Linked DNA regions of Homo sapiens: all the other regions are linked to region 2. Evidence: fine-mapped expression QTL. A gene starts in region 2. Each other region holds a variant in brackets. All regions are shown on one strand. Distances are from middle to middle. Region 1 has its middle 22 kb from the start of LYPD3. Region 2 holds the start of ETHE1 (ETHE1 persulfide dioxygenase). Region 3 has its middle 18 kb from the start of PLAUR. Region 4 overlaps CD177 (CD177 molecule).

Region 1 (8,103 bases), 83 kb after region 2:
ATCTCTGCTAAAATACAAAAATTAGCTGAGTGGTACGCACCTGTGGTCTCAGCTACTAGGGAGTTTGAGTGCTCACCTAGCAAGCTAAAGTGCAGTAAGATAATCCAGAATGCAAGTACCACTCTAGTGACAACCATCATCACTAGTGTCATCAAGGGCACTTCATATAAAAGTGCCAGTGTGCATCAGGGATAAGAGTGAGACAACATCCACTGGTTCACGGTGAACCGATGAAACAAGAACAACAATTAGGAATTTATTAGGATCAACAGGACTATCCTAAATATCAGCAGTAAATTAGCACATCACAAGAAACTCATGAACATGGGTTAACAAAATGAACCACTGATAAGCCAACTTTTCTGTGTCAAAAGGTGGGAGGTTCACTTGAGCCCAGGATGACGAGGCTGCAGAGAGCCGAGATTGCGCCACCGCACTCCAGCCTGGGTGACAGAGCAAGACCCTGCCTCAAAACAAACAAACAAAACAAGAACAGTGGCACCTTAACTGTTAATTATACGAGAAACTGGGAGCTCCTGTAGGGTTTTCACCCTGCAAGTCAGATTGGTGTTTTCCATGCGCCCTCTGGCGGCTTGGAGCAGCAATGTCAGCTAAGCATCAGCATCCAGCCCCTGGCTGGACTCTCGGAAAGTACTACTGCTATTTGGCGAATGCACTTGCACCAACATTCACCTAAATCTGCAGCAGACACAGGGACAAAGCTCTGTCTGGGTTTCCAGGACATCTTCTCAGAGGTCGTGATGGATAAGACCAGGAGCGGGATCTTAAATAACAAGGAGCACGTGCAGAGGCCTGAGCGAACATGCCTTGTGTCCGGAACTGGGTGCAGCAACCTGGGAGAGAGCAGGGAGATGAGGCTGGGGAATTAGGTCAGGCCCATTTGGGAAAGAACCTTGGCATTGGGACTTTGTGCTGTAAACCAGTTTGGAGATTGTGAACCATCAAGCTTCAAAGACAAAATTGGAGGGTCAAGCATTAAGGATGTCAACTTTTTATTTTGTTAGTAGGGTCTTAAAAAAACAACTATTCTTATTCATTCTAAAAGCTTTTAATGAACACCTACTGTGTGTTAGGGAATGTTCTGGGCAGGATCTGAGTCTGCATTGCTCACTATTGTATACCCTCAGAGTCTAGAGTCATGGAAAGGCCCCAAAAGAAGGGATGAATGAAATGAAAGATCATTGCTAAAGCAAGGTCAGGGTGGAGATGAACTGCCAGGGGTGAGTCCAAGCTGGGTGAGATTGTGGATGAGTTTGGAGACAGAAAAGAATAAAGGTGAAAGTGCTTAGTCCGGCCAGGCGTGTTGGCTCATGACTGTAATCCCAGCACTTTGGGAGGCTGAGGCAGGCAGATCATGAGGTCAGGATTTCGAGACCAGCATGGCCAACATGGTGAAACCCCACCTCTAATAAAAATACAAAAATTAGCCAGGCGTGGTGGCAGGTGCCTGTAATCCCAGCCCCTCGGGAGGCTGAGGCAAGATAATTGCTTGAACCCGGGAGGTGGAGGTTGCAGTAAGCCAAGATTGCCCCACTGCACTCCAGCCTGGTGACAGAGCAAGACTCTGTCTCAAAAAAAAAAAAAAGAGAAAGTGTTCAGTCCTTGAACTGTCAAAAGACAAAATCACAACAAATTTGCTTATAGATTCCCTCCCACCTCAGCCTCCCAAATAGCTGGGATTACAAGTATGCACCATCATGCCTGGCTAATTTTTATGTCTTTACAAAAGATACATGTTGGCCAGGCTGGTCTCGAACTACTGACCTCAAGTGATCCACCTGCCTTGGCCTCCCAAAGTGCTGGGATTACAGGCATGAGCCACTGTGCCCAGCCTGCTTAAAGATCTTAACTGGTTATTATTTGTGATTTTAGAATTGGGCAACATCGAATTATAAGAGACAGAATGAGTATTCTGATGAGTCGAGCAAAAGAGGTTGGTTTTATAGACAGAAAGGGCAGAGACTGCAGAAACAGAGAAGAAAAAGTGTATTGGCCATTTCAAAATTACTTTCCTTGTAAAGGTTAAAGGACAGGGGTTTCCTTATCATGCAGGCTAAAACTGGCCTGCTTGGGGACTTGGCTGTTATCTTTCACTCTCCTGATTTTTTGGAAGGTCAGGTAAAACAATTGAGTTTTGGCTTGGTGATGTGGAAGTTAGCACGAGTGACTCCATTTTGGTTTGGTCTGTTGGGCTTTGCACAGAAGCTTGGTCCAAACTAGTGGCCTCTGGTAAATTTCATTGAACAATATTATTATTAGTTTTTTTCTTTCTTGAAAGAGGGCCTCACTCTGTCACCCAGGTTGGAGTGCAGTGGCGTGATCATAGCTCACTGCAGTCTTGACCTCCCAGGCTCAAGCCATCTTCCCAGTTCAGCCTGGAGAGTAGCTGGGATTACAGGTGTGTGCCACCACACCTGTCTAATTTCTTGTAGAGATGGGGTCTCACTTTGTTGCCCAGGTTGGTCTTGAACTCCTGGGCTCAAGCAATTCTCCCACCTTGGCCTTCCAAAGCATTGGGATTACAGGCATGAGTCACCATGCCTGGCCAATAATGGTTAACTTTTGAAACACTCCAGTGGCTTCTCTTCTCATTTAGCGGAAGCACTGTGCCCTTGGCATGCCCACAGGGTCTGGCCCTGACCGCTGTGCTGGCCGCAACTTCTTGCACTAACCACTGCCTGCTCCGCTGCAGCCACGCAGGTCTCCTGGATGAGCCTTAGCCACAGAGACCCATTCCCTTCTCAGAACCTTTGCACTTCCTGTTCCTTCTGCCTGCAATGCCCATCCTGCATTTACCAACAGCTATGCGACAAACACTCATGGCACCAAGCACAGTTCTGAGCTGTGAGAGGAAAATAAATATTGGGGCCCCAAAATCACCAAAGCTAAAGGGAAAAGTCAAGCTGGGAACAGCTTAGGGTGAACCTGCCTCCCATTCTATTCAAAGTCACCGCTCTGCTCACTGAGATAAATGCATATCTCATTGCCCCATTTGGAGAGGCTAATCAGAAACTGAAAAGAATGCAACTACCAGCATGGTGGCTTATGCTTGTCATCCTAGCACTTTGGGAGTTCGAGGCGGATGGTTCACCTGAGGTCAGGGGTTCGAGACCAGCCTGGTCAACATAGCGACACCCCCGTCTCTACTAAAAATGCAAAAATTAGCCAGGCGTGGTGGTGGGTGCCTGTAATCCCAGTTACTCGGGAGGCTGAGACATGAGAATAGCTTGAACCCGGGAGGCGGAGGTTGCAGTGAGCCAAGATCTCACGATTGCACTCCAGCCTGGATGACAGAGTGAGACTCCGTCTCAACAACAACAACAGCAGCAGCAACAGCAACAACAACAACAAATTAGCCGGGCATGGTGGCACATGCCTGTAATCCCAGTTACTCTGGAGGCTGAGGCAGAAGAATCACTTGAACCCAGCAGGCAGAGGCTGCAGTGAGACAAGGTTGCGCCACTACGCTCCAGCCTAGGGCAACAGAGCAAGACTCTGTCTCAAAAAAAAAAAAAACAAAAAACAAAAAACAAAAAGAATGCAACTGGCTGGGCGCAGTGGCTCATGCCTGTTATCCCAGCACTTTGGGAGGCCGAGACTGGCGGATCACCTGAGGTCAGGAGTTCAAGACCAGCCTGGCCGACATGGCGAAACCCTTGCTCTACTAAAACATACAAAAATTAGCTGGGTGTGGTCGTGGGCACCTGGAATCCCAGCTACTTGGGAGACTGAGGCAGGAGAATCACTTGAACCCAGGAGGTGGAGGTTGCAGTGAGCCGAGATAGCACCACTGTACTCCAGCCTGGGTTACAGAGTGAGACTCCATTTCAAAAAAATGAATGCAACCACTTCTCTCTTATCTACCTATGATCTGGAAGC[C/T]CCCTCCTTTCTTCCAGTTTCCTGCCTTCACCTTGAGTTGTCCCACCTTTCTGGACTGAACCAATGTACATCTTACACCTACTGATTGATGTCTCATGTCTTCCTAAAAGGTATAAAACCAAGCTGTGCCCCTACCACCTTGGGCACGTGTCATCAGGACCTCCTGAGGCTGTGTCATGTGCGTGCATTCTCAACCTTGGTCTCCTAATTAACTTTCTGAATTAACTGAGACCTGTCTCAGATTTTCGGGGTTCACAGAGCAATTTATAAATCTTAACCCTGGTGATATGGTTTGGCTCTGTGTCCCCCCAAAACCTCATCTCAAATTGTAATCCCCACATGTGGAGGGAGGGACCTGGTGGGAGGTGATTCGATCTTGGGGGTGGTTCCCCCATGCAGTTCTCATGAGATCTGATGGTTTATAAGTGGCCGTTTCCCCTGCACTGTCTCTCCTGCCACCTTGTGAAGAAGGTGCTTGCTTCCCCTTCCCCTTCCGCCATGAGTGTAAGTTTCCTGAGGCTTCCTCAGCAATGTGGAACTGCAGGTCAATTAAACCTCTTTTGTTTATAAATTACCCAGTCTCAGGTAGTATCTTTTTTTTTGAGACAGAGTTTCCCTCTTGTTGCCCAGGCTGGAGTGCAGTAGTGCGATCTCGGCTCACAACCTCTGTCTCCTGGATTCAAGTGATTCTCCTGCCTCAGCCTCCTGAGTAGCTGATTACAGGTGCCTGCCACCATGCCTGACTTTTTTTTTTTTTTTGTATTTTTAGTAGAGACGGGTTTTCATCATGTTAGCCAGGCTGGTCTTGAACTCCTGACATCGGGTGATCTACCCACCTCAGCCTCCCAAAGAGTAGGGATTACAGGCATGAGCCACCTTGTCTGGCCAGTATCTTTATAGCAGGTAGTATCTTTATAGCAGTGTGAGAATGGACTAATACACCCTTTAATCTTTTCCTCACTTCCTTCAACACTAATGATTTTTGTGAACATTTATCTACTAACATATATTTAACATTATCTTTTTAAAAATTTTTTTGTGAGAGGGGGTCTTGCTCTGTCACCCAGCCTGGGGTGCAGTGGTGTGATCGCAGCTCATGGCAGCCTTGACCTCCTAGGCTTAGGCGATCCTTCTGCCTTAGTTTTCCAAGTAGCTGGGACCACAAGTGTGCACCACCATGCCTAGCTAATTTTTAGATTTTTTTTTTTTTTTTTTGAGACAGAGTCTCGCTCTGTCACCAGGCTGGAGTGCAGTGGTGCCATCTTGGCTCACTGCAACCTCTGCCTCCCAGGTTCAAACAATTCTCTTGCCTCAGCCTCCTGAGTAGCTGGGATTACAGGTGTATGCCACCATGCCTGGCTAATTTTTATATTCGTAGTAGAGATGGGGTTTCATTATATGTTGACCAGGCTGGTCTCAAATTCCTGACCTCAGGTGATCCACCTGCCTCAGCCTCCCAAAGTCCTGGAATTACAGGCGTGAGCCACCACACTCGGCCTTTTTAAATCACGTAAATAATACACAGACTTAATCCTGCTATAGAAATTCAAATGTAGAGTCAACCGTGAAAGTTTCCCTTGTCAAGATTCCCTGGCATCTCCTCTTCCATTCTACTTAGGACCTTGGAATGGGGAGATGCTGCATTTTGGAGGTAAAAATTCCAATAGTAAAGTGAAAGCTAGCATTTACTAAGCAGTCCCCATGACCCAGGCACATATGAACTTTTGAAGGTTATCAGAATCAAAATGGAGTCACTCATGTTAAAAAAAAGAAAAAGAAAAAAAAGCTCCGACCAACAGAGTGAAGGAAAGCCATGGAGAGAGGGTTCTCATACTTGTATGACTGATCACAAAAACTATCACAAAAAAACTGCAAAAAACACAATCTCACACAAAGACCATTGCAAACTTACACAGAAAAATACTTCTGCAAGGACGTTTGCCCAGCAACTGCCTGTCCAACCCCAGACTGGCATCATCTTTGTGATTCATTTTTCTAGCCAAAGATGATTATTTCAAAACCATTATGTAATTCTCCTCATTTTTTTTCTTTAAAAACCTTTGTCTTCTTTGACCTCCTTGAATATGTATAACACTCCTATTCCCATTGCAATTCTCTGTTCTTGAATAAACTTTTTTTTTTTTTTTGAGATGTAGTTTCACTCTTTCGCCCATGCTGGAGTGCAGTGGCATGAACTTGGCTCACTGCAACCTCCACCCCCCGGGTTCAACTGATTCTCCTGCCTTGGCCTCCCTAGCAGCTGGGATTACATGCACCTGCCATGATGCCTGGCTAATTTTTGTATTTTTAGTAGAGATGAGGCTTTGCCATGTTGGTCAGGTTCGTCTCGAACTCCTGACCTCAAGTGATCCACCCGCCTCGGCCTCCCAAAGTGCTAGGATTACAGACGTGAGCCACCTCGCCCAACCAATTTTTGTTTCTTTTAGAGAGCCTCTCGCTGTTTGTTATCTAGGTTGACAACTAATTTAATCACAATAAAATCCACACTCCAAGCTAGGAGTGGCCTGTGCCTGTAGTCTCAGCTACGTGGGAGGCTAAGACAGGAGAATAGCTTGAGCCCAGGAGGTTGAGGCTGCAGTGAGCCATGATTGTGCCACTATACTCCAGCCTGGGCGATAGAGCAAGACCCTGCCTTAAAAAAAAAAATGGCTGGACACGGTGGCTCACGCCTGTAATCTCAGCACTTTGGGAGGCTGAGGTGGGTGGAGTACTTGCGTTCAGGAGTTCGAGACCAGCCTGGGCAATATGGCAAAACCCTGTCTCTACTAAAAATACAAAAAATTAGCCGGGCATGGTGGTGCATGCCTGTAATCCCAGCTACTCTGGAGGCTGAGGCAGGAGAATCACTTGAACCCAGGAGATGGAGGTTGCAGTGAGCCAAGATCGCGCCACTGCACTCCAACCTGGGTGACAGAGCAAGACTCTGTCTCTAAACAAAAACATAAACAAACAAAAAACTTCCTAAATCCATTATCCCCATACTCTGATCTGTGCCTGCCTCTTAGATGCCGCCTCCTGCCATTCTGCCACTTGCCTCTTCTTGCCAGCCTTCTTTCCATTGCTCACACACACCAATCTCATGCCCGCTTCTACACCTTGGCACCACCATTCCCTCTGCTGGGAAAACCTCCCTCATGGTCTCTTCATTCACACGTGGCTGGGATGTCATCTCCTTTTGGTGGGCGTCCCTGACTACCTTATCGAAAGCAGTATCTCCTCTCCCCATCACAGCCTCCGTCCTTTAGTCAGTTGTGCTTCTCTTCAGAGCACTTACTTCTCTCTACCTGACTTCATATCGTAGATCTGTTTGCTTTTTATGCATATGGAACTTTCTCTTGGTCACTGTTTTGGTTTTTTACAGACAGGGTATTGCTCTGTTGCCCAGGCTGGAATGTAGTGGTGTGATCATAGCTCACTTCAGCCTCAATCTCCTGGGCTTAGGTGATCCTCTCACCTTGACCTCCCAAAGTGCTGGAACTATGGGCATGAGCTACCACCCCTGGCTAATTTTTAATTTTTTTTTTCTTCTTTTTGAGATGGAGTTTCGCTCTCGCCTCCAGGCTGGAGTGCATTGGCGCGATCTCGGCTCACCGCAACCTCGGCCTCCCAGGTTCTTAATTTTTTTTTTTTTTTTTTTTTTTAGAGATGGGGTCTTGCTATGTTACCCAGGCTGGCTTTCAATTCCTGGGCTCAATCAATCCTCCCACCTTGGCCTCCCAAAGTGCTGGGGTTACAGGCGTGAGCCATCATGCCTAGTCTGTCTTGGTCATTGTTGTCTCTTTCTCACACAGAGCAAGAGGAACCCCATAAACTGTTGTTTCCTGAATGATGGAACCATCTTGTTGGGTTAGACCTGCTCTTATCCCATTTTATAGATGAGAGATCTAAGGCTCAGGGAAGTTAAGTCACTCAGCTGACAGGTAATGGAGATGGGTTTCAAATCCAAGCAGGCTAGCTTCAGGATTTGGCTGAGCAGCTGCAGGTTTCTTGTATTGGTTAGTTACAATAATGCTGTGTAACAAACCACCCCAAAGCTCAGTAGCATGTTTTTTTAGCTTCTGAGTTTGTGGGTAGGGCATTTAGCTAGGCTTGGCTGGATGGTTCTTCTGGGTCATCTGTACCTTCTCATATGTCTGGAACTCAGCTGTCAGCTATTCCAGGTTGGTCTGCAACAGGTTGGTC
Region 2 (8,103 bases):
TGTAACCTCCACCTCCCAGGTTCAAGTGATTCTCCTGCTTCAACGTCCTGAGTAGCTGGGATTACAGGTGCCCGTCACCACGCCTGGCTAATTTTTTTTTTTTTTTTTGTATTTTTGGTAAAGATGGAGTTTCACCATGTTGGCCAGGCTGGTCTCAAACTCCTGACCTCAGGTGATCCGCCCACTTCGGCCTCCCATGGTGCTGGGATTTCAGGTGTGAGCCACCGCGCCCAACCTCTAGGGCCACAGCTATTTTCAAGAACCATGATTTTAAGAAGGCAGAGTAGAAGCCAGAAGACCAGTGAGGGTATTGTTATATATTAATTACAGTATTAATTGCTAGCACTTATTATACACTGGAAACTGTCCTTATGTGCATTAATTTATTTAATCCCCATAGCAATGTTTTAAGAGGAGGTGCTACTATCATCCTTGTACAGAGGAGGAAAATGAAGTGTGGAGGGGAAGGTCATCCCAGCCAGGAAGTATCAGAGCCAGGATTTGAATCCCTCAGCCTGGCCCTGCAGTCCAGGCAATTTGCATTTATGCTTTGCTGCCCCTTGAATGGGGCAGAGGGTGTGATAACAGAAAAGTGGCCTGGTTAAGATAGGTTAAATCTGGCTGGGCACGGTGGCTCGGCCCTGTAATCCCAGCACTTTGGGAGGCTGAGGCAGGTGGATTACTTGGGGTCAGGAGTTCCAGACCAGCCTGGCCAACATGGTGAAACCCCATCTTTACTAAAACTACAAAAATTAGCTGGGTGTGGTGGTGTGCACCTGTAATCCCAGCTACTTGGGAGGCTGGGGCAGAAGAATCTCTGGAACCCAGGAGGCGGAGGTTGCAGTGAGCTGAGATTGCACCACCGCACTCTAGCCTGGGCAACAGAGCAAGACTCCATCTCAAAAAAAAAAAAAAAAAAAAAGAGAGAGAGTTTAACTCAGCAGGGCCTGGAAGTGGGTGGAGGTGGCAAGGGTAGGAAGGAGTCAAGGATAGTGACAAAATAATGATGGGCAGTTCCCATTGAGAGCCTGTGCTATGTCAGGCTATTGAACTATTTTCAACCTCATTTTGTAGATAAGAAAACTGGAACCCAGAAGAAGATAAGTTTTCAGCCCAAGGTCCTACACCTGAGAAGGGTGAAGCCAAGTCTAACTCTTAGAACATCTCACAGCTGAGCCTATAAACCCTGCCTAGGGTGTGTCTTCAAAGGACACATAAATGGTCTAGAAATTCTGCAAAAACAACGGGAAAGGGTGCCAGGGGCGAGAAGTTCTTATTTGGGGGACCCTCTCAGTAAGGAGTGCCTGAGGGTCTTCCTTTCCCTGGCTCCTCCCTCCCCTGAGTTCCCCAAATCCCTACACCTCCCTGTGTCTCAGACCTGCTTTCCCTACCTCTCTCGCCTACCAGCCAGACTGAGTCACCTCTGGGTCCTCAGCTTTGTCTAGCTTGAGTCAGGCATGCATGAGACCTCATGCCTGGAATTTTTTTTTTTTTTGAGACGGAGTCTCGCTCTGTCGTCCAGGCTGGAGTGCAGTGGCACGATCCCGGCTCACTGCAAGCTCCGCCTCCCGGGTTCACGCCATTCTTCTGCCTCAGCCTCGAGAGTAGCTGGGACTACAGGCATCCGCCACCATGCCCGGCTAATTTTTTGTATTTTTTTTGAGTAGAGACGGGGTTTCACCGTGTTAGCCAGGATGGTCTCAATCTCCTGACCTCGTGATCCACCCGCCTTGGCCTCCCAAAGTGCTGGGATTACAGGCGTGAGCCACCGCACCTGGCCTTTTTTTTTTAGACACTCTCGCTCTGTTGCCCAGACAGGGTTTTGCTATGTTGCAGAGGTGCAATCTTGGATCACTGCAAACTCTGCAACCTCTGCCTCTTGGGTTCAAATGATTCTCATGCCTCAGCTTCCCAAGTAGCTGGGTCTACAGGCGTGCCCCACCACGCCCAGATAATTTTTTTGTATTTTATTTTATTTTTTTCAGTAGAGATGGGGTTTTACCATGTTGGCCAGGCTGTCTCAAACTCTTGACCTCAAGTGATCTGCCCACCTAGGCCTCCCAAAGTGCTCAAAGTGCCTGTGCATGAGCTCAGCCATATGCTTTTTTTTTTTTTTTTTTTTTTTTTTTGAGATGGAGTCTCCATCACCCAGGCTGGAATGCAGTGGCACGATCTCAGCTCACTGCAACCTCCACCTCCCGAGTTCAGGCAATTCTCCTGCCTCAGCCTCCTGAGTAGCTGGGATAACAGGTGTGCACCACCACACCCAGCTAATTTTTATATTTTTAGTAGAGATGGTGTTTCACCATGTTGGTCAGGCTGGTCTTGAACTCCTGACCTCGTGATCCGCCCGCCTCAGCCTCCCAAAGTGCTGGGATTACAGGCATGAGCCACCGCGCCCAGCCGGCCACATAAAATTTTAATGAAGCAATTTGATAGGCTTAAGGAAAAGCAGGCCTTCTCTGTGTAAAGGCATTCACACAGGGGCTGCTCTGAAAATAGCTCCAGGGACCATTCCCTGGAAACTCCAGAATTAAGATAAATGTTGTTGCAGGAAACCCCTCCTCAGAAGCTGTGGGACAGGATAACTCAGTGGTTCATACCTGTAATCCCAGCATTTTGGGAGGCCCAGGTGGGAGGACCATTTGAGGCCAGGAGCTGGAGACCAGCCTAGGCAACATAGCAAGACCCCTGTTTCTACAAAAAAAATTCTAACAATTAAAAAAAAAAAAAAAAGCTCTGCCCCTAGGCTGGAAATCAAGGCTGCTCTGATGTCACAAAGTGACATAGATCCTCCAGATGAGAGTGGGATGTCCTATTCTCACTACTGCTACGATTACAAAGAGCAGACTTTCTGACAGCTCATGACTTGAGACTACAGTTTTTCAGCCCCAGGTCCTTGGTGTAAATGAACACAAGCTCTTTTCAGAGGTTCACACCCCAACAGAAGATGAATAATCCCCAATCTGATTATTCAAGAGATAATGCAAAATTATCTTTTTTTTTTTTTTTAAGATTTCTTCCTGGAAAGAGAGAAACATTCCTGATAAAATGCTTATGCAATTTCTGGATGAACTTTAATGGGATCAAGTGTTGTTCTGGTAACCAGGCACCCACTCAAAAGTCCCTCAAGATATTAATGACCTGGAACCGAACGAATATCTTTTTTTTTTGAGACAGAGTCTCCCTCTGTCGCCCAGGCTGGAGTGCAGTGGCGTCATCTCTACTCACTGCAACCTCTGCCTCCCGGAACCGAACATCTTTTTCTAACCATGACTATCCTACCACCTGCTAGAAAACGGCCCCACGGGACGCGGTGGCTCACGTCTGTAATCCCAGCACTTTGGGAGGACAAGGTGGGAGGAACGCTTGAGCTCAGGAGTTCGAGATCAGCCTGGGCAACATAGTGAGAACTCCGTCTCTGCAAAAAACAAATTTTATATACATGTATGTGTGTGTGTGTGTGTATATATATATATGTATATAAATATATATATAGATATAAATATATATATATAAAATGTCGGGTGTGGTGGCAACGTGCCATAGTCCCAGCTACTCGGGAGGCTGAGGTTGGAGGATCGCTTGAACCCGGGAGTTTAAGGCTGTAGTAAGCTGAGATCGAGTCACTGCACTCAAGCCTGCGTGACAGAGCGAGACTCTGTCTCAAAATAAAACAAAAGAAAAAGGAAAAAAAACGGCCCCGAGGCTATGAGTGTACTGGGGCCTCTCCCTGGGTTTCTACTTCTCTCCCTATCTCTGTTCCTACATGAGTATGTCTGTGTGTCTCTGAGCGTCTGTCCCTCGCACTTTGAGTGTCTCCCTGTTCTCTGTTTTTTCTGGGTCTCAAAGCGTCCAGGCATTGCACTCTGGCTTTCCTCGGTCTCGCCCTCGCCCCAGTCCCGCTCGGCGGTCCCCCGCCCTCTGCCCCAGGCGTCCGTGGCCCCTTTAAGGCGTGCTCCGCCCCCGCCCCGCCCTTCCCGGGGTCAGTGCCGTAGCGCCCGGCTCCTGCAGGCGCTCGGCCTCCGCTCATTCCTGACCCCGCAGTGGGCGCGATGGCGGAGGCTGTACTGAGGGTCGCCCGGCGGCAGCTGAGCCAGCGCGGCGGGTCTGGAGCCCCCATCCTCCTGCGGCAGGTGCGGGTGGCTGGACCTAGGAGGGGACTGCTGGGCACTAGGCGGCAGCAAGGACGGAACTCCGGGGTCTCTTAATAGGGAGAGATCCGGGGGGACCCACGCCTGCATCTTGCGGAAAGCGGGGTGGAGGTTTAGGGCTGGACTCTTGGGTCCTTTAAAGGTGAGTGGTCTGGGGGCCTCTGGGCTTGGGGCCAGACCCCTGGGTCCTCTATGAAAGAACGTGCTGGGGACCCTGATTTTGGGATGTTAGGAAGTTGGAACTCTTTTGTTCTGATAGGGGAAGGTAGTGGGGCTCCGGACTCCCGACTCCCGGGGAAAGAGTGGGCTGGGGTTTCTGCTTCTGGATCTTAGGAAGAGGATAGGGTCAGTCTGGACTACTTGGCCTCCAGTGGGTGGAAGTCCGGTTCTGCGCCCTCACCTGGGTCCCCCGTTCCCAGATGTTCGAGCCTGTGAGCTGCACCTTCACGTACCTGCTGGGTGACAGAGAGTCCCGGGAGGCCGTTCTGATCGACCCAGTCCTGGAAACAGCGCCTCGGGATGCCCAGCTGATCAAGGAGCTGGGGCTGCGGCTGCTCTATGCTGGTCAGTCCGGGGACCAAACTCATGGATCCCAGCGGGGCTGGGCTGCAGCGTCAGTGGAATGGGAAGCTGGGGCCCAGAACTCCTGAGTCTGAGGGAGAAGGATCTGGGCTGGGACTCCCAGGTCCTTTCTGTACCCTCCGGACCTGTCCCTCCTCTCTCTCCCAGTGAATACCCACTGCCACGCGGACCACATTACAGGCTCGGGGCTGCTCCGTTCCCTCCTCCCTGGCTGCCAGTCTGTCATCTCCCGCCTTAGTGGGGCCCAGGCTGACTTACACATTGAGGATGGAGACTCCATCCGCTTCGGGCGCTTCGTGAGTTGGGTGCTGGGTCCCCAAGAGGGTGGTGGCCTGGACTTCTTAAACTTAAGGGAAGAGGGGACTGGGGGCCTGGGATCCTGAGTCCTTGGGGAGGAGGGACCTCAGGACCTGGGTTTCTGACCCCTGAGCTCATATTTCTGGGAGGGGGGCACCATAAACCCAGGTGGGGCACTGGGGCAAGAGGCTCTGGGCAGGTGGGGCACTGGCGGAACTCCTAAGTCAACAGCATTTAAGGAGTTTCCTTCCTAAAGCTTAGGGGCAGCCCTTTGGCCTGGCATGCATCTCCATAAAAGTTGATTAGGGGCTGGAATTCTGAGGGCAGGGCTGAGAAGGAAAGAGACCCAGTCCTGTCTTGCGGAAACCTCCGTTTGAGGAAGGAGCATCTGGGTGCTTAGAACCCGGAGCCCAGGACTAGGAAAAGGACGGTGAGGACCCTGGAGTGCAACATTTAAGGAGGCACTCGCTCTCAGGGTCCTGTAAGTGCAGGGTCCGCACCTGTGAGTGAGCGCCTCCTTAAATCTTGCACCAACAGCCTCACCCTAGTCCTAGCCCTGCCGTTGCCTCACACTGGGAAGTCTAAAGGTTCCTGCCTTCCTCACTTTATTTGCCACAGGCACCAGCGGGTTTCCGGCCAGAATTGCAACCAGGCCGAAGGAGGGAGGGCCAGGGGAGTTGCCCTCAGAGAGAGGGAAACAGCTGGCAGGGCATTCTTCTGATCAATTGCTAAAGATGTATAATAAAGTTTGGCTGACTTTGGGGACAGAATGTCAGGTGACAGAAGACAGCCTCCAGGTTAGAGAGTTTTGCCAAATAGGGACAGTTCATTTGAGTCAGAGTGTTTAGAGGAAATGAGGGCTGTGTGTGGGAAGAGAGTTCAGCTACAATGGTTACAGAAGCTTTATTTCAAGCCTTTCTCTGGAAGCAGGCAAAAATGCATTGTACATGTATGTACATTGTACATAATAGGTGCTAACAAACATGTCTTGAAATGAACGAAGGGTTTAGCTATGGTAGATTTAGCTTCAGTGTTTTTTTTTTTTCTTTCTTTCTTTCTTTCTTTTTTTTTTTTATTTGAGACTGGGTCTCTGTCACCTAGGCTGGAGTGCAGTCAGCCTTGACCTCCCAGGCTCAGGTGATCCTCCCACCTTAGCCTCCCTGGTAGCTGGGACCACAGGCATGCACCAGCACGCCTGGCTGATTTGTGTATGTTCTTGTAGAGACAGGGTTTTGTTATGTTGCCCAGGCTGGTCTTGAACTACTGGGCACAAGTGATCCTCCTACCTTGGCCTCCTAAAGTGCTAGGATTACAGGGCTTCTGAAAGTGCTGGGATTACAGGCATGAGCCACTGCACCCACCCTTTTTTGTTGTTGTTGTTTGTTTGTTTGTTTTTGAGAAAAGGTCTTGCTCTGTCACCCAGGCTGGAGTGCAATGGTGGGATCATAGCTTACTGCAGCCTTGACCTTCTGGGCTCAGGTGATCCTCATGCCTCAGCCTCCTAAGTAGCTGGGACTACAAGCACCTGCCACCATACCTGGCTAATTTTTTAATTTTTTGTTGAGCTGTAATCTCACTATGTTGCCCAGGCTTAATAGCTTTATTGATATAACCCACATACCATATAATTTATCTATTTCGAGTGCACAATTCAATGACTTTTAGTATATTCAGAGTTGTACATCCATTACTACCATTAATTGGAAAATGTTTCCATTACTCCAAAAAGACCCCACACCCCTTAGCCATCACCCCTATCCTTCCCTTTTCCCCCCTCAGCCTTAGGCAACTTTTTTTTTTTTTTTTTTTTAATTTGAGACAGGGTCTCACTTTGTTGCCCAAGCTAGAGTGCAGTGGTGCGATCTTGGTTTACTGCAACCTCCACCTCCCGGGTTCAAGTGATTCTCTTGTTTCAGCCTCCCAAATAGCAGGGATTACAGGCGTGCGCCACCAAGCCCAGCAAATTTTTTTGTTTTATTTATTTATTTATTTATTTGAGATGGAGTTTTGCTCTTGTTGCGCAGGCTGGAGTGCAATGGCGCTATCTCAGCTTAGCGCAACCTCAGCCTCCCGAGTAGCTGGGATTACAGGCATGCGCCACCATGCCTAGCTAATTTTGTATTTTTAGTAGAGACGGGGTTTCTCCGTATTGGTCAGGCTGGTCTCCAACTCCCTATCTCAGGTGATCCGCGCGCCCTGGCCTCCCAAAGTGTTGGGATTACAGGCATGAGCCACTGCGCCCAGGCACATTTTTATTTATTTTTTTGAGACAGTCTTGCTCTGTCACCCAGGCTGGAGTGCAATGGCAAGCTCTCAGTTCACTGCAGCCTCTGCCTCCTGAGCGCAAGCGATTCTGCTGTCTCAGCCTCCCAAATAGCTGGGATTCCAGGCATGTGCCACCATGTCTGGCTAATTTTTGTATTTTTAGTAGAGATAGGGTTTCACCATGTTGGCCAGGCTGGTCTCAAACTCCTGACCTCAGGTGATCTGCACACCTTGACCTCCCCAAAGTGCTGGGATTATAGGCGTGAGCCACCATGGCTGGCTTGTCTGAGATTTTGGAGATGGGGGTCCATTTTTCTCTCCTTTATTTTTCCTTCTACTTTAAAAAAATGAATTGTTAGCCTGGGTGTGGTGGCTCATGCCTGTAATTCCAGTACGTTGAGAGGCTGAGGTGGGCGGATCACTTGAGGTCAGAAGTTCGAGATCAGCCTGGCCAACATGGTGAAACCCTGTCTCTACTAAAAATACAAAAATTAAGCGGTATGGTGGTGAGGCACCTGTAATCCCAGCTACTCAGGAGGCTGAGGAGGCAGGAGGAGAATTGCTTGAATCCGGGAGGCAGAGGTTGCAGTGAGCCAAGATCGCACCACTGCACTCCAGCCTGGGTGACAAAGCGAGATTCCATCTCAACAAACAAACAAACAAACAAAACCGAGTTGTTAACATTCATGGAATGAAAGGAGTCCACATATTATACATGTGTATGAGTACTTACCCAGATCCCGATACAGAACTTGCCCATCACCCCAGAAGTCTTCCTTGCCTCCCTTTCTGGCCAATGACCGCC
Region 3 (8,103 bases), 160 kb before region 2:
ATTGGGAGCATTATCGTAGGAAATGTGGACACCCTGGGAACACATAGGTTTGAAAAGAGCATAGGGGATCCAGGGAGGTAAGAAAGGTTGGGTTTTTAGGAAGGCAGGGGTCAAAGCACCTGGATGTGTAGGAGTAAGGCAGTTGCATTCAGGCTTAGCGGTGAGATGAAATCCAGAGTCTTCTGGACCCAGGGTGGCATTCTCATGTAAGTTGCAGACCTCTGGTGTAGCACAGCCCTTCAGAATTTGGGGACCCCCTGTGGAAATGAGATGAGATTGCAACAAGAGGCTCAGAGTCCAAGCCTTCCAACTTGATGTCTATCTTTCGCTATCTGAAAGTTGCCATCTTAGTAGTTCTATATGATTCAGTTTCAAATCTACCTGGTCAGTTTTTACAACCTCTTGTTGCCTGCTCACATTTGTGATTCTAAGTTTATTCCTTCAGACATATCACGTGCCGGTACGCTATGTTCTACAGCTGATAATTACAATAGCTGAGCTCCTCACAGGTCTGTATCTGTGATTTGTTATTTCTGCTATCACTCATGGTGGCTTGTTTCCTTGTGCGTTTCATGAACTATGATTGTGAGCTCATATTTGGTTGATATTCATCTGTGGGAATCCTGGGAGCTTTTCCCTGGGAAGGAATTGCTTTTGATTCTACTGAGTGCCAGGAGGTGCTACTGACCAGGGATCATTTTGGCTTCTGTCCGAGGTCCCTTGCTTATGTGGGAATCTAAATTCCAGAAGCATGCTGCCAGCCCAAGACCTGTTTACCTAAAGCAGGTTATTATCAGCATTTGCTCCCAGGCCACCATGCCTTCCATGTTTTCTCACTGCTCCCATTATGATTTCTGTTCACATTTTTGTTTTGCTTAGGGACACGTGGACATTTTCTTAACTTTCTGCAACCCCAAAAAGTGTGGAAAAATATTTCTGTACAGGATCTTGTTTATCTGTAAACAGTGGCATACCAAGCAGGGGAAGGGAGTGGGAGCAGTCCAGCCTGGGAACAGGCTACAAGGGGCTTAGTGTCTATAGAGAATTTTTTTTTTTTGAGACAGAGTCTCACTCTGTCACCCAGGCTGGAGTGCAGTGGCACAATCTCGGCTCACTCCTACCTGAGCCTCCCAAGTAGCTGAGATTACAGGTGTGTGCCACCATACTCAGGTAATTTTTGTATTTTTAACAGAGATGGGGTTTCACCATGTTGGCCAGGCTGGTCTCGAACTCCTGTGCTCAAGTGATCCACCCGCCTCAGTTTCCCAAAGTGCTGGGATCACAGGCATGAACCACCGTGCCCAGCCTATAGAGAATTTTTTTAAATCATAAAACCAACTAAAAATCAGTTTGCTTTTTATTATCACCAGGTAGTACCAGCAATTCTAAGCAATGTCAGTGATAAACTGCTCCTCCCAACCATGATGGGCCACTTCCTCTATTTCACTGTCTCAGTCCTCCACCTTCCCAGTGTGCCACTGTTTGGAGCAGAAGACCTTTTAGAGGATTGAGTCCACCATACTGCCAAAAGCAGAAGCCCAGGCTACTGCTCTCGATCCTTTGATTGGCTTCATAATTAGTCTATCCTCTGGCTACTGTGGTTATATTATAAATCTTTTGCTGAAAAGGCCTCTCCTCCAACTGTTTGCAAATCATACTGGTGATTTAAAAATACCTTTGCAAATCTATGACACATCAACAGGTGGGGTCCATGCCTCTTTCATCTTGAAACCAGATGGAACTTTTGTGACCATTTTGATCAATAAAGCAGAATAGAAGTTACATTATGTGACTTCCAAGGCTGAGACATAAAGACCAAGCAGCTGTAACTTTGTTTGCTGAATGAAATCGTTAGCCACCATGTAAAGAGCCTTGAGGTAGCCATGATGGGAGGAAGCTCAATCTAACCGATGTGGAGAGGCCACATAGAAAGGCCTGTGCTTACATATATGCAAGAGATGCTCAGAAAGCCCCTGGTTGTTCCTGCCCCAGCAGTTCCAGCTCTTAACACCCTCTGACTACAACATACGAGAGACTCAGAACTCTCCAGAGGAGCTCTTCCTGAATTCCCAAACCAAAGAAACTGGAAGAGATCATTAAATGATTGTCATTTTTAGCCACCCACCTTGTGAGTGATTTGGGGTTTTTTTGTTTTTGTTTTTGTTTTCGAGATGGGAACTTGCTATGTAGCCCAGGTTGGTCTTGAACTCCTGGGCTCAAGTAATCCTCCCACCTTAGCCCCCCAAAGTACTGGGATTACAGGTGTGAGCCACTGCTCCTGGCCTGTGGGTGATTTGTTAAATGGCAATACATAACCAGGACGCACGTGCAAATGAAGCTCAAGCCTTATTTGTGCAGGTGGGAAGAAACCTGCCACAAAAATCACCTCCTGTGAAGGGGCCCTTACCTCTACTCCAGGTCCCGTGGAGGGTGACACATGCAGTCTGTTTCCCAGTGCAGTTCATGGAGCCGACTTATTCCTGGAACAGTAGTGACATTTCACAGTGTTGGGCTTGGCCTTGGGCCCTGCCTCTGGTGGGAGTGGACAAAGTCAGGGCGGGGTGGGGGCTGAGGAACACCCCTACAGCCATCCTTCCTCACTAGGCCTCTGTTCTCCTGCCCTCCCTCTCTCACTGCCTCTACTCCCACAATCCAGATCATTTCCCTCCAAAGTGATTCTGCGCCTGGCCCCAGAATAAGTTTTCAGGGGCTGCAAGGAGTGTTTGAGACCGAGGCTGGGCACAATGGCTTATGCCTATAATCCCAGCACTTTGGGAGGCCGAGGCAGGTGGAAGACTTGAGCCCAGGAGTTCCAGACCAGCCTGGGCAACATGGCGAAACTCCATCTCTACAAAATGCAAAAAAAATTAGCCAGTCATGGTGGCACATGTCTGTAGCCATGGTACTCAGGAGGCTGAGGTGTGAGGATTGCTCAAGCCCAGGAGGTGAAGGTTGCAGTGAGCCAAGATTGTACCACTGCACTCCAGCCTGGGCGACAGAGCAAGACTGTCTAAAAAAAAAATTAATGCAGTTATAATCATACCTGACATTTTATATACTGAATAGCATGCCCACCTCGTAACTTGAACCTGGGGGTTTTATTTTGCTGAGAGACACAATTTAGGAGGGCAATTAGACACAAATTAGGAGGAGGGAAATCGCACTTGTTTGAAAGGATGGCTACCTCTCCCCATTGCTACATCTGCCAAGTACAAATTCCTTCTTAGAAGAAATAACCAAGCAACGAAAAGTGATCTTTGTCACCACCCAGGGCCAGATCTAGGGTGAAACCAGGGGCCCAAAATTTAAGGAGGCACGACTTTTCAGGGTTGTGCAAGTAGAGGGCTATCCCCTCAGCGTGAGCATCTCCTTAAATTTTGCACCCTGGGGCTGTGCATGAGGGCTCACACTTGTAATCCCAGAACTTTGGGAGGCCAAAGTGGGTGTATTGCTTGAGGCCAGGAGTTGGAGACCAGCCTGGTCAACGTGGGGAAACCCCATATCTGCTAAAAATACAAAAAAAATCAGCCTGGTGTGGTAGCATGTGCTTGTAATCCCAGCTACTCAGGTGGCTGAGGGAGGAGAATTGCTTGAACCCAGGAGGCAGAGGTTGTAGCGAGCCAAGATCGCACCACTGCACTCCAGCCTGGGTGACAGAGTGAGACTCTGTCAAAAAAAATAAAAATAAAAAATAAAGAATAAACATTTTTGCATCCTGGGCTCCTGGCTGGGCTCCCCTAGACCTGGGCCTATCACCACTTGTGAGGTTTCTTGTTCTGTTTGACTAGCCTTCAAGGGGAGCCCCTCTATTAAAGACAAAAAGAGAGGCGGGGCACAGAGATTCATGCCTGTAATCCCAGCACTTTGAGAGGCCCAGGCGGGCAGGTCACTGAAGGTCAAGAGTTTGAGACCAGACTGGCCAGCATGGCGAAACCCTGACTCTACTAAAAATACAAAAATTAGC[C/T]GGACGTGGTTGTGTACATCTGTAATCCCAGCTACTCGTGAGGCTGAGCCACGAGAATCGTTTGAACCAGGAGGTGGAGGTTGCAGTAGGCCAAGATTGCGCCATTGTACTCCAGCCTGGGCAACAGAGTGAGACTCTGTCTCAAAAAGAGAGAGAGAGAGAGAGAGAGACAGAGAAACAGAAAAGAGCTTGGAGTTCTCTTTAGCCTCCCAGTATTCAAATAAACATGGCAACAAAAGGAGTGTCTACCACGTGCCAGCCTAGGGGATGAACACCCTTTAAAACCTACATCACACCCATTTTCCAGATGAGAAAACTGAGAGTCTCCTTCTTGCCCCAATCAGCCAGACAAAAAGCTGTGAGGCAGGAAATTGAGGCTGGGTCCCCATGACACCCTACCCTGGTGTGTGAGCCTGAGGTCCTCCCAACAAACCTTACTGGGGAAGGTGGCTGCAGTTGTTTTCACAAGAGGCTGTGCTGACCCAGAGGCTTGCATGGGGGCTGTAGGTCAGGGCGTAGACACCTTCTTAGCATTCTCCAGGGGCCACACATGACCCCTTCTCAATGAGAGTCCCATTTTCTAGGGATAGAGTTTGAGGAAGGGAGATTAGGGCCCCTGCTTTCCAAGCCCTCCAGGACCTCTGCCCACTCTATAGCCATCCCCCTGGCCAATCCAGGGCCTCTTTTGCTGTTCAGCTGCCCTCTGCCCTTTACCCCAGTAGCACCAGGCTGAGCTATGAGGCAGGGCTGGCAATCTCCAGTCCCAGGATGGCTCATCCATGCCCCCCTTCCACCCACTGCCTTTGTCCATTCTCTCCACCCAGCCCCTGTCCAGTCCCCAGCCCGGTCCCCCACCCAGCTGCATCTGGCTAAACAAGCAGAAGTCCTGGGCAGAAGGACAAGTTATTTCAATGCAGGTTCACAGCAAAGAGCAGGCTGGACATGTCTTAGAGCTTCCTGCAAGGAAGAAAACAGTGATCAGACTCTGCAGTTTGAGAAGGACAAAGAACACACACACACACACACACACACACACACACACACGATTCAAGAATAGGACTAATCAGGCATGGTGGCTCATGCCTGTAATCCCAGCTATTTAGGAAGCTGAGGATGACTTGAGCCCAAAAGTTCAGGCTGCAGTGAGCTAAGATTGCACGACTGCACTCCAGCCTGGGCAACAGAGTGAGATCCTGTCTCAAAAAAAAAAAAAAAAAAAAAGAATAGGACTAAGGGCTGAGGTGGGAGGGCCATTGGGAGATCAGCAACCTTCTTTGTTGTGAGGAGTGCGAATGGCATTCCAAGTCGATGAAACAACGCAGACAAAGGTTTGGAGATGAGAATCACAGAATCTCTAAGTGGGAGCTGCTGGGTTTAGGGTTTCAATTCAAGATCGCACAGTGAGGTCCTGGCTAGGATCCAAACCACTTAATTCCCAACTCAGGCAAAGGTGGCAGAATTAGAGCCAAAGGGGAGACAGGCAGGTGAGGTAAAAGAGTAACAGTAACTGCTCCTGGATAATCCAGCAGAGCTCACCCTCAAACAGAGCCACTGCCAGGCTGGCACTGTTCTGAGCTCCTCAAACGTGTGGATTCAACCAATGTCTCAACAACTGTCTGAGGCAGGGGCATTGTCACCACTTCACACATGGAAAAAATGAGGCACAGAGAGGTTATGTGGTTTGTCTGGAGTCACACGGCTAAGAAGTGACAGAGTCAGGATTTGAACCCAGGCAGCCTGGTTCCAGAACTAGGTTCTCAGCTGCCCTGTTCTTCTGCCTGCTAGACAATGAGCCCAGTTGGAAGGACCTGGGGCCCAGACTCTGAAGCCAGACTCCCAACACCACATGTGACCTTGAGCCGACCCTCTCCCTTTCTGATGGACCATGACGCGCTTACCTGCTGGGGCAGCCAGTGCTCCCAGGAGCAACAGGGCAGAGAGAGCCAGAGCATGATCCAGGCAGGAGAGAAGGAAGCAGGACACAGGTGCCCTTGCCTTTTATTCAAGGGCCTTGGCCAGGGTAGCAGCCCCGGAAGAGGGAGAGCAAATAGGCCGGGAAGATAGCGGTGCCACCCACCATCCTGGCCACTGGGACACCCAGCAAGAGAGGGGACTGAGAGAGCATCGAGATGGGGAAACTAAGTCCTGAGAGGCATGTGGGGAAAGCCTGGGACTACTCAGTGAGGCCAGAGAAGGACAGGGGGACATGTTGTTATTATTATTATTACTATTAATAGGTTGTGGCCAGGTGCAGGGGCTCGTACCTGTAATCCCAGCACTTTGTGAGGCCAAGGTGGGAGGATCGCTTGAGCCTAGGAGTTAAAGACCAGCCTGAACAACATAGTGAGACCCAGCGTCTTAAAAAAATTTAAAAATTAGACAGGTGGGCCAGTCGCCGTGGCTCATACCTGGAATCTTAGCACTTCGGGAGGCCAAGATGGGCAGATCACTTGAGGCCAGGAGTTCGAGACCAGCCTGGCCAACATGGTGAGACCCTGTCTCTACTAAAAAAAAAAAAAAAAAAAAAAAAATTAGCCGGGCGTGGTGGCACGCACGCCTGTAATCCCAGCTACTCGGGAGGCTGAGGCAGGAGAATCACTTGAACCTGGGAGGCGGAGGTTGCAGTGAGCCGACATCACACCACTGCACTCCAGCCTGGGCAACAGAGCGAGACTCTGTCTCCAAAAAAAAAGGCATTTGAAGCCCCAAATCTTTCTCTCTCAGGCCTTATCTACTGGTTCTTAACCCTTCTCTTTCTTTCTTTTCTGATGTCTTTCCCCACTAACACCCCTTTCCTTTCTGCTTCACAACCTCAACCTATAAAAACTTATCCCCTTAAGACCAGGCTGTCTAACGACACTGAGGTCCTCAGATTTCTTATGTCTCTGGAACTAAAGCTGAACTCTGTGCTATATCCAAGGCATTTCCTGAGGTTACTGAAGAGCCCCATCATTTTGCCGATAAATCTAACTTCACAGTTCAGGCTTACCCATCCAGCTTCTCTGATCTTTACCAACTTGTTTTGCACCCTTGCGGGAGAAGGCCAGGCCCAACACTGGATGGCAAAAGCCAATTAGGGCCTGGCGCGGTGGCTCACGACTGTAATCCCAGCACATTGGGAAGCCGAGGCAGGCAGATCACAAGGTCAAGAGATCAAGACCATCCTGGCCAACACGGTGAAACCCTGTCTCTACTAAAAATACAAAAAATTAGCTGGGCGTGGTGGTGCATGCCTGTAGTCCCAGCTACTCGGGAGGCTGAGGCAGGAGAATAGAATTGCTAGAACCCGGGAGGCGGAGGTTTCAGTGAGCCGGGATCACACCACTGCACTCCAGCCCAGTGACAGAGCAAGACTCCGTCTCAAAAAAAAAAAAAAAGTTAGCCTGGTGTGGTGGCACATGCCTATAATCCCAGCTACTCAGGAGGCTGAGGCACAAGGATCTCTTTAACCTGGGAGGCAGAGGTTGCAGTGAGCCAAGATTACACCACTGCACTCCAGCCTGGGCGACAGAGTGGGACTGTGTCTCAAAATAAAAAATAAAAATAAAAATAAAAATTAGCCAGGCGTGGTGGTGCACACCTACAGTCCCAGCTACTAGGGAGGCTGAGGTGGGAGAATCGCCTGAGCCCAGGAATTCAAGGTTGCAGTGAGCTATGATGTCACCACTGCACTCCAGCTTTGGTGACAGTGAGACTCTCCTCTAAAAAAGAAATAATAATAATAATATAAAATAATAATGGGTTGCCTCATCACTCATTACACACATTAGCTCACTAAATCCTTACAGTAGTCCTACCAGCCATTATCATTAACCCCACCCACGGAGGATACTCAAAATATTTGACCACCTGTCAATACAGGCCAGGGTATTGGTAGTAACAATCCTGCCCACTTGCTAGAGTAGCAGCCTGTTGGCCTCCAGGGACCCGGTCTTTCCCTCATCTTTCTAGAATATGAAGATGTCTGGGAGGACCCAGAGATGCCATCAGGGCACTCAAGGCCTCCAGGCAGGGGAATTTTATCAACCAAATCTGGACATACCTCAATATTTTAACAACCAGTACAACTGAAATCAGCCCTGGGGTTCCCTCTTTTACAAAAAAGGGAACCAGGGCTCACAGCAGTCAAGGCCTTGTCC
Region 4 (8,103 bases), 160 kb after region 2:
GGCCAGGTGTGCCCAGGAGCAGGGCTCTTCCTGGGTGTCCAAGGCCACCTTGTCTCCAGGAGTGTAACCGTGTTTCCAGCCACTGAAAACTTGGATCAAAGCCCAAAGTAAACTTTCCCTTTTCTGGCTTTGAGGTGTGGTGTTTAAATTCAGAGACATTCTCCAGGAAAGCAGAAACTTCTTGGCTAAAATCCAAACCTAGGGAATTTATTGCAGAGATGGGGACGTGGTTCTCATTTCTGCCCATCTCAGAGTACAGATTAATTAACTCAGAAGATTCAAAAGATTATATTTTCCATATTCCTTGCTGAACATAATATTATACCCTTTTCTCTCCAGTTTTATGCTTCTTTTTTTCTTGGTGCTAAAGAAATTGTAAACCTTTGTCTTAAAACTGGAGTCCCTTCCAACTGCTAGTGACAGAAATCCCAGCAAGATAAGAAGGAGCAAATGTCCCTGCTTCCTAGACAACTTGAGATGTATACAGATCCTATTCAGCATCCTACAATGTTCTTGCTTGACGCCCACAAAAACCTTTCATCCTGTACGGGGAAATCAGACTTGACTAAACTCATACTGGCTTTGAAGAAGTAAAATCAGGATTGATAAATTCATATACGGTAAATATCAGAGAGGTAGAAAGTAAACAATAGGTGATACAGGGAATACCCACAAATTAGGAAAGCAACGGGCCATTTAAACCACAATAGAATTATAAAAGAAATGAAGCACAGGCTCACGCCAGTAATCCCAGCACTTTGGGAGGCCAAGGCAGGCAGATCACCTGAGGTCAGGAGTTTGAGACCAGCCTGGCCAACATGACAAAACCCCATCTCTACTAAAAATACAAAAAAATTGCCGGTCGTGGTGGCGGGTGCCTGTAATCCCAGCTACTCGGGAGGCTGACGCAGGAGAATCGCTTGAAGCTAGGAGGCGGAGGTTGCAGTGAGCAAAGATCACGCCACTGCACTCCAGCCTGGGTAACAGAGCGAGACTCCATCTCAAAAAAAAAAAAAAAAATAGAAAGAAAGAAATGAACCACAGCACTTCCCAGTACATTACTCCAGTTGGAATTGCAAAATATTATTCTCGATAACTCCTGGATGAGTATATTTAGAGTATATTTAGAAACGAAAAAATGTAAGAGAGTCTATGTTTCAAATCTAGTGCATTATTTTATGGAGATTTTCACAAGCTCCAAAAGATTAACAGTGCAGAGCTGGAGGTTCTAGAGAAATTCCGCGCCTCCTCCTGCAGGTAACTCTGACCATTCGGAAAGCAGCTCTTGGCTCATCCCTGGGCCAAGTGCAATCAAGTTCAGGGCCGGGTGCTCTCTGAGCTACCAAACCATAACCTGGGGCATGCACAGCAGCCTCCAGCATCCACGGGACAGCTGAGCATGGGGTCAGGCTCAAGCAGGTCTGAGGCCAGCAAGTGACTCAGGCTCCCATGGCACCTGTCCTTCTGCCCCTCCCTCTACCACATCTGTGAGCTCCTGGGAAGCCCTGTGACCTCATACAGAGGAGGAAAGTGCAGACCAGGCTTATGGATGGGTCCTCACGGTGAGCTGGCGCCCAGCAGAAGTGGACGGCGGCTGCCTTAGTGCCCACTTCAGGTGGTCCTGAGGAGTGATGAAGGGAAATCCTTCAGATGGGCAGAACCTCAGGGGTTCTGCAAGGAGGGATGGACTTGGGTCCATTGCATGAACCCAGAGCGGGCCACATGGTCAAGGACTTGAAGAGAATAAAAGAGTAAACTTAAGACAGGGAGGACACATGGATGTTCCTCTGGGGATGGGCACAAAGTGTGAGCTATGCCGTCCCCACCCTTAAGCCCAGAACCTGTGCTGTGGGGATGAGGTTCTTGGTGTTTGGTGGATGGTGTCAGGCAGACTCTGTCCCTCAGAGCTTGTTCAGGGGGTCCAGGTGCAGATGGCCACATGGATAGGGAGGACGGCGACATACCTTACCACAAGTGGACTGAGTCTCCCAGCACTGGCCTGGCTGCACACTGTATCCAGCCCTGCCCAGTGTAGGCAGAGCCCGGGGCTAAGCCCCTGGAAGGCGTCATTTTACAGGAGGACTACCCGGCCACTGCAGATAGGCTGGCCACACAGGACACGTCCCATCCTGGAGGGGACTGGGCTTTGTCCTCACACGGATACGCACACACTGGGGGTTCCAGTTGGCCTTCCCTGGACCCTGCTCAGTGCTTCTGTGAACAGCGCCTTTCCTGTGGCTCTGGAACCCATGCAGGGTTGCTTCCACTGGGGACACGTGTTAACGCAAAGAATGGGGGGTAATTAACTCACACCCATGGAACCCACTGACCGTCTCAGGTGCCCCTCTATACAGACACAGCTGCTTCTCAGATTGGCGCAATGGCTCATGTGTGGCTTATCAGGGCACCGGGAGGGAGACCGTACCCCACCACCCACAGGAGGGGCCACACATCTTATAAACCAGCAACCAGGCTATCGGGTCACGCGCCCCAGGGCCAGATGCAAAGATCCAGGAAAGACAGGAAGAATAAGCGCGGCTCCCTCCCGTGACTGCACCTGCCAGCCCACTGAGAGAATGCTTGCTCTTTGTCCCCGTGGCCCTGGGCTGCTGTGGATGAGGAATCTCTTCCTAGTTCTGATCTGCAGGAAGCCATGACAGCCCTCCAGCCATCCTGTGCCCCTTGTGCTGCCAAAACAGCAGGCAAAGGAGACGTCACTCTGCAGTCGGGGGAATGGCATCTGATTACAGAGGGAGGTCGGGTGGCTGGGACAAGGAGGCTATTTTCGAAGGCAGGCAACTCATGGCGGTAACATTTCCTTGGCCAGGGCCCTGTTCCATGGAAAACTACAGAAACCCACTAAAGACAAGGCCATCCAAGACTCACTCTCCATAAGAATCAAGATTTGGGTTACACTGCAGGTAACAAATAACATCCAAAGGAGGTTTTGGAAGTGGGAAGACAATGTGGAATGTACTGGAAGAAAGCAGCTCTAAGCACCAGCAGCCCCGCCCCCAGGACCTCAGCAGCTGTATTGGAAGCCATCTCCTCCCCATCTTTCTCTCATTGTGGGTGAAGAACTGGTGCCCAGCACAATGGGAGGAGGACATCACTGTCACCATCACACACTGTTACTGTGACA[G/C]AGGGAAGGACTGGAATTGTGTGTCATCTGTACGGAGGACTCTGATTTATTTTTCCCCCTTGAGACAGGGTCTTGCTCTGTCGCCCAGGCTGGAGTGCAGTGGTGCAGTCTTGGCTCACTGCAGCCTTGACCTCCTGGACTCAGCCTTCTGAGTAGCTGGGACCAGTAGAGGGAGGGGGCGCACACCACCACACCCGGCTTATTTTTTGTATTTTTTTGTAGAGAAGCGGTTTCACTATGTTGCCCAGGCTGGTCTCAAACTCCTGGGCTCAAGTGATCCTCCCACCTCGGCTTCCCAAAGTGCTGGCATTATAGGCGTGAGCCACCGAGCCCGTCCTGGACTTTGATTTTCATTTGGACAAAGGGAAAGGGTGGATGCCGAGGGGCAAGGGAGTGAACGGTACTAGACGTGTTCTGTTTCCTTCTCCAGATTCGCTCTCTTCTCCTCTTCCCTCTCCTCTCCTCTGTTCTGTAGTGTGAATGGCAGATCTATGGGGGCTGGACCAGTGGAGTCTCCTGCTTCTGTGGCCTCTAGGGGGTTCAGTCAATGGGGAACCTCAACTGGAGACCAGAGTGAGGACATCAGTTTGGAATTTTAGTTCCCCACTTCCCTCCCCAGTATCATTGTGGGCTGGACGCGTTTTTCAGCCTGAGATGGGAGCTCTTGTTAGGCAACCCTCTCTGAATATCTCTCTCTTTCTGTCTCCGGCTCTCTCTCCAGCTCTCTCTGTCTCTTTCTGTCTATGTCTCTCTCTCTCTCTCTCTCTCTGTCTGCAGATTCCAGCAGTGGCTCTTCTCCTCACCCTTTTTGGGCTATGGTGGTAAGAGAGACCCAATGATAACAGCTCTGGGAAAATGCTAACCCATTTTTTTCTGGAGTTCTCTCAAGCCCTCATGTCAATTATCCCACGATACGCAGATGCTACATAGCAACGTTTGGGTCAGCGACGAATTGCGTATAGAACGGTGGTCTGCTGAGATGACAATAGTGTATTTATGCTGTACCTTTTCTATGTTTAGATGTGTGTAGATGCACAAATACTTGCCGTGGTGTTAAGATTGCCTGCAGTATTCACACCATAACATGCACTGCAGGCTTGTAGCCTAGGAGCAGTCGACTCTAGCGTCCATCCTGGGTGTGTATTGGGCTGTACCATCTGGGTTGGTGTAAGTGCACGCTACAATGTTCCTATGGTCATAAAATCACCTAACGACACATTTCTAACGACACGTCCCTGTCGTTAAGCAATGCATGACTGTACTAACCTCTCCTGCAGTTGCTCAGATGGGGCGAGCCTCCTGTTTGTGCTAGGGCCCTGGCTGCTAGGCTGGAAGCCTCATACGTCTCAGTGCATCTTCCCCTCCCAGGTCATGGTGATGCCCAAATACGTTTGGCTGGAGCACCCTGAAGTCTCTGCTACCATCCAAGCTGGTTTGGAGACGTGAACCAGACCAATGAAGGGCAGGCTTTAGATGGTCATTTTCTCATTAGGCTCCTCTCCTCCCCCACGCTAGATCCCTGGGTGTCCTGCTGCCCCCTCACATGGAGAAATCCCAGCACTGGGAGAAAGGACAGGGTCTGTATTATCAGATACATGCAGCCACTCCTCCAGCGTCCCCTCTCCCATAGGGCAAGTCCGGATGCTCCAGGCTCTCCCCAGTGTTGCTGTTAGGTGAGTAGATATGAATGATTGTGTGTGGGGAAGATGATTCATGGACAGAATGGGAAAGAATCTGGTGTCCAAGGCCATTAGGTTATGAGGTCAGAGGGAGGTTGAGTGTGGGTGGTCAGCAGCGGTGAAGAATCGTGGGGGTAATAGAGTTAGCAGGAAGGGCAAACCACTCCCCACCACAGCGCTGGGGCCAGTGCCAGCCCCACCCCCCAAGTGAGAGACTCCAGGCCCTCAGCCCCACCTCCCTCATGCTGAGAGGCAGGAGGCTGCACATCACGCTTCTCACGCGCAGAGAAGATCCCGATTTGTCTGGTGTGGTTCAACAAGAAGCTGGAAGGTTGGGCCACGCAGCCCTGAATGCTCATTTTGGTGGACAGCCCACCTAGAGGGAGAAGACCAAGTCAGAAAGGACACAGAGTACAGCCCAGCCAAGTTGTAAACCCAGGAGTCCAGGCCCCAGACCCTCCTCCCTCAGACCGAGGAGCCCAGACCCCCAGCTCCAGCTCCTCAGACCCAGGGGTCCAGGCCCCCAGCCCCTCCTCCCTCAGACCCAGGAGTCCAGGCCCCCAGTCCCTCCTACCTCAGACCCAGGAGTCCAGAGCCTCAGCTCCTCAGACCCAGGAGCCCCGGCCCCCAGCCCCTCCTCCCTCAGACCAGGAGTCCAGGCACCCAGCCCCTCCTCCCTGGGACCAGGAGCCCAGGCCCCCAGCGCCTCCTCCCTCAGACCAGGAGTCCAGGCCCCCAGCCCCTCCTCCCTCGGACCAGGAGTCCAGGCCCCCAGCGCCTCCTCCCTCGGACCAGGAGTCCAGGCCCCCAGCCCCTCCTCCCTCAGACCCAGGAGTCCAGGCCACCAGTGCCTTCATCCTTGGGGCCCTGCTTGCAGCACTCACCTCCTGAGAGATGAATGTACCCATCATAACAATGAGTGGCGCCCCTGGGGCAGGTCATTCGGGGGGAGCCACTTGAACAGGTTCCAAGGGGCTGCACACAGGTAGGACACTGCCGGTCTCCTGGGACAGGGGCAGCTGGGGAGCAGAGGGAAGGTGGGGGTACATGACTTTGTGCTCAGAGCAGCTGGCCACCTTGGGCCAGAGTCTCTGTGTGTCTGGGCCTCATTTCTCCACGGCCCTGGATCCCATACCTTGAGGAGGGAGGGAGTTCAGCAGAACGCTGCTGCTGCTGGCACTATTGCACAGGTCCGAGGAGCAGAAGTGGGTATAGGAGGCCACAAGCACCCCAGGAGGGGCTGAGTGGATGGTGGTCTTCTGGGAATTTTGAGCCCCAACAGTGCTGCAGCCTTTTGTCCCCACCAGGGTTGATGTGAGTCCTGAGGGTGAGAGGGAAAGCTGGGCTGGGGACTGGGCAGCTCCCAGGGCAGCAGGGGCTCCAGAGCTGGACTCCCTGCCCTTCACAATACCCCCCAGGCAGAGGGTGAATGCCCTGATCACAACTGCTGGGTCATGTTTAGTGTGGGGCAAAGACGGAGGCTGGGGCCTGGGTCCTGCCCGAAGCTCTGCCTCCTCCCAGTTCTCGCTCAAAGGTCACCTTCTCCATGAGTCTCCCCTGAGCACTGAGCTTAAAATTGCAGCCTTCCCCTCACTTTTCCTATCTCCTTTTCCTTGCCAGATTTCTCTGCAGAGCTGGGATCTCCATTCCCCATACTTTGCTGCTTTTTGTTTGTTTGTTTCCTGTTTCTCAAGGCATATAAAGCTGCAGGAATACAGATGGGATTGGATCTGCGGCACCTAAAACAAATGCTGGATAAACATTTCCAGAATGTATGAAGCCACTGAGAGTCCTCGGTGTTGGCACGGTTCTCCACCCTGGGCAGGGATTACCGCATACGTGGTCACCCCTCCCCAGAAAGGCAGACACTGTCATTCCCACTGCTTCACCCCCAGTTTTCATAAGGGGAACCCAAGATGCAGAGAGAAGAAGAGTCGGATTGAAAATTGCAGATGTGAAGGGAGCTGAGCAGGAAATTCAGGGGAAAGAATCCAGTGGGGTGGAGGGAGCTGCCAGGGACTTGGGACAGGTGTTCGTCTTCTACCTCAGTCCACGTACCTACATCTAGGAGCAGCAGCGTCTCCTGACACACCTGCCCCACCTCGCACATCTCGGTATTCGATGTGGTCCAATCAGTGGGTTCTTGAGCCAAGTTTCCGTGTGTCATAATGGTGGTCCCCCGATGACAGGTCAGAAAATCTGGGGAGAGGAATCCCAGGGTGTGTGTAAGCCAGGAACCCACCATGTCTGTCCCTCCACGTCCTGGGCTAGGGAAGGTGATCACACTCTTGAGTCACACTCCAGGTGACCTGGCCACAGATTCCCTTAACCAAGGATTCAGAAGGGACTTGGGAGTCGAAATCCCACCCCCATTGTTCCCTGTTTCTGCTTGAACACCCGCAGGGACGTCCTCTCACAGCCCTGGGGGAACGGCCGTTCCTTGCTTTAGCTGTGAGAGCAATGGAAGCTCTTCCTTATCCTCATCCCATCTCTGCTTCCCCATCTGAGCTTTAAGGTCCTCATTTCAATAATAAGGAAGGCAGCCTGAGACCTTTCTCATACCTTTCAGTTGCAAAGCCCTATGTTCCAAACAAGATGCGAAGGGCCAGGGTGGGCTGAGCACTGCCGCTGAGCACTGCCTCTGCACCTGGCTGACCTCATTGCTTCCCACAGATCCACCCATCTAAGGTTCCAGGGAACACAGCTTATCTGGGATGCCTCATTTCCCCACAGCACCCCAGCAGTAGGTGGTGTGATCACAATCAACACCCTCATTTGCAACAAGGGAAACAGAGGCAGGATTGCTCAGTAGCTGCCCATGCCACACAGCTTGTGAGTGGCAGAGGTAGGCTGGGAACCCAGGGACTCTGGACCCTCAGGGTCGGGGTTGGGAGCAGGAGGGAGACAGGTACTGAAGACCATCCTCGGCTACCTTGGCCCCGAGGCCCTCAAGGCTCTAGTGTGAAACCACAGCCCCTGGCCTCCCCTCACGGCCATCACAGAGCAGGGGGGATCGGTCCCATGATGCAGGGACTCTTAGACTGAGCCCCCAGCTTCCACCAACACATGCGACCTGCAGAACCGATGCCACCCTGGAGGGCTGCTCATTTGCATACTTCACAGATGACAAAATCAAAATCATGGCTCCTGCTCCCTTCTCCCACCCTTCTCTCCCCACTCCCATCTCCCCTACTTACACCCGTGGCGGCTCGTTTCTGCCAGTCTAGCTGAACACATTGGTGTTGTCCTTGACCACGCTCTTTCTCTCCCACATTGTGTTCC

What was found. PIP is the estimated chance that this variant, and not a neighbour inherited with it, causes the effect.
Region 1: its variant is fine-mapped to the expression of ETHE1 in monocytes (TOPMed, PIP 0.95).
Region 3: its variant is fine-mapped to the expression of ETHE1 in whole blood (TOPMed, PIP 0.95).
Region 4: its variant is fine-mapped to the expression of ETHE1 in whole blood (INTERVAL, PIP above 0.99).

Annotation. Positions count from the first base shown.
Region 1 is chr19:43,439,690-43,447,792 of GRCh38, reverse strand. No RefSeq gene overlaps it. Among named protein-coding and RNA genes, the nearest start is that of LYPD3, 22 kb to the left of the region's middle. The variant C/T (reference allele first, on the strand shown) is at 3,901.
Region 2 is chr19:43,523,130-43,531,232 of GRCh38, reverse strand. It overlaps ETHE1 (ETHE1 persulfide dioxygenase), which reads left to right and starts at 4,032. Exons shown (of 7, transcript NM_014297.5): 1 at 4,032-4,136; 2 at 4,574-4,718; 3 at 4,884-5,032. The coding sequence starts at 4,056. It also overlaps a transcript of ZNF575 not described here. RefSeq lists silencers at 1-78, 3,881-4,070, 5,421-5,580 and enhancers at 4,681-4,860, 4,376-4,880, 4,881-5,386.
Region 3 is chr19:43,684,436-43,692,538 of GRCh38, reverse strand. It overlaps the pseudogene LOC105372412. Among named protein-coding and RNA genes, the nearest start is that of PLAUR, 18 kb to the right of the region's middle. The variant C/T (reference allele first, on the strand shown) is at 3,965.
Region 4 is chr19:43,359,182-43,367,284 of GRCh38, reverse strand. It overlaps CD177 (CD177 molecule), which reads right to left. Exons shown (of 9, transcript NM_020406.4): 6 at 6,880-7,020; 7 at 5,957-6,142; 8 at 5,706-5,840; 9 at 4,113-5,197. The coding sequence ends at 4,965. Among named protein-coding and RNA genes, the nearest start is that of CD177, 9.5 kb to the right of the region's middle. RefSeq lists an enhancer at 2,579-3,080. The variant G/C (reference allele first, on the strand shown) is at 3,143.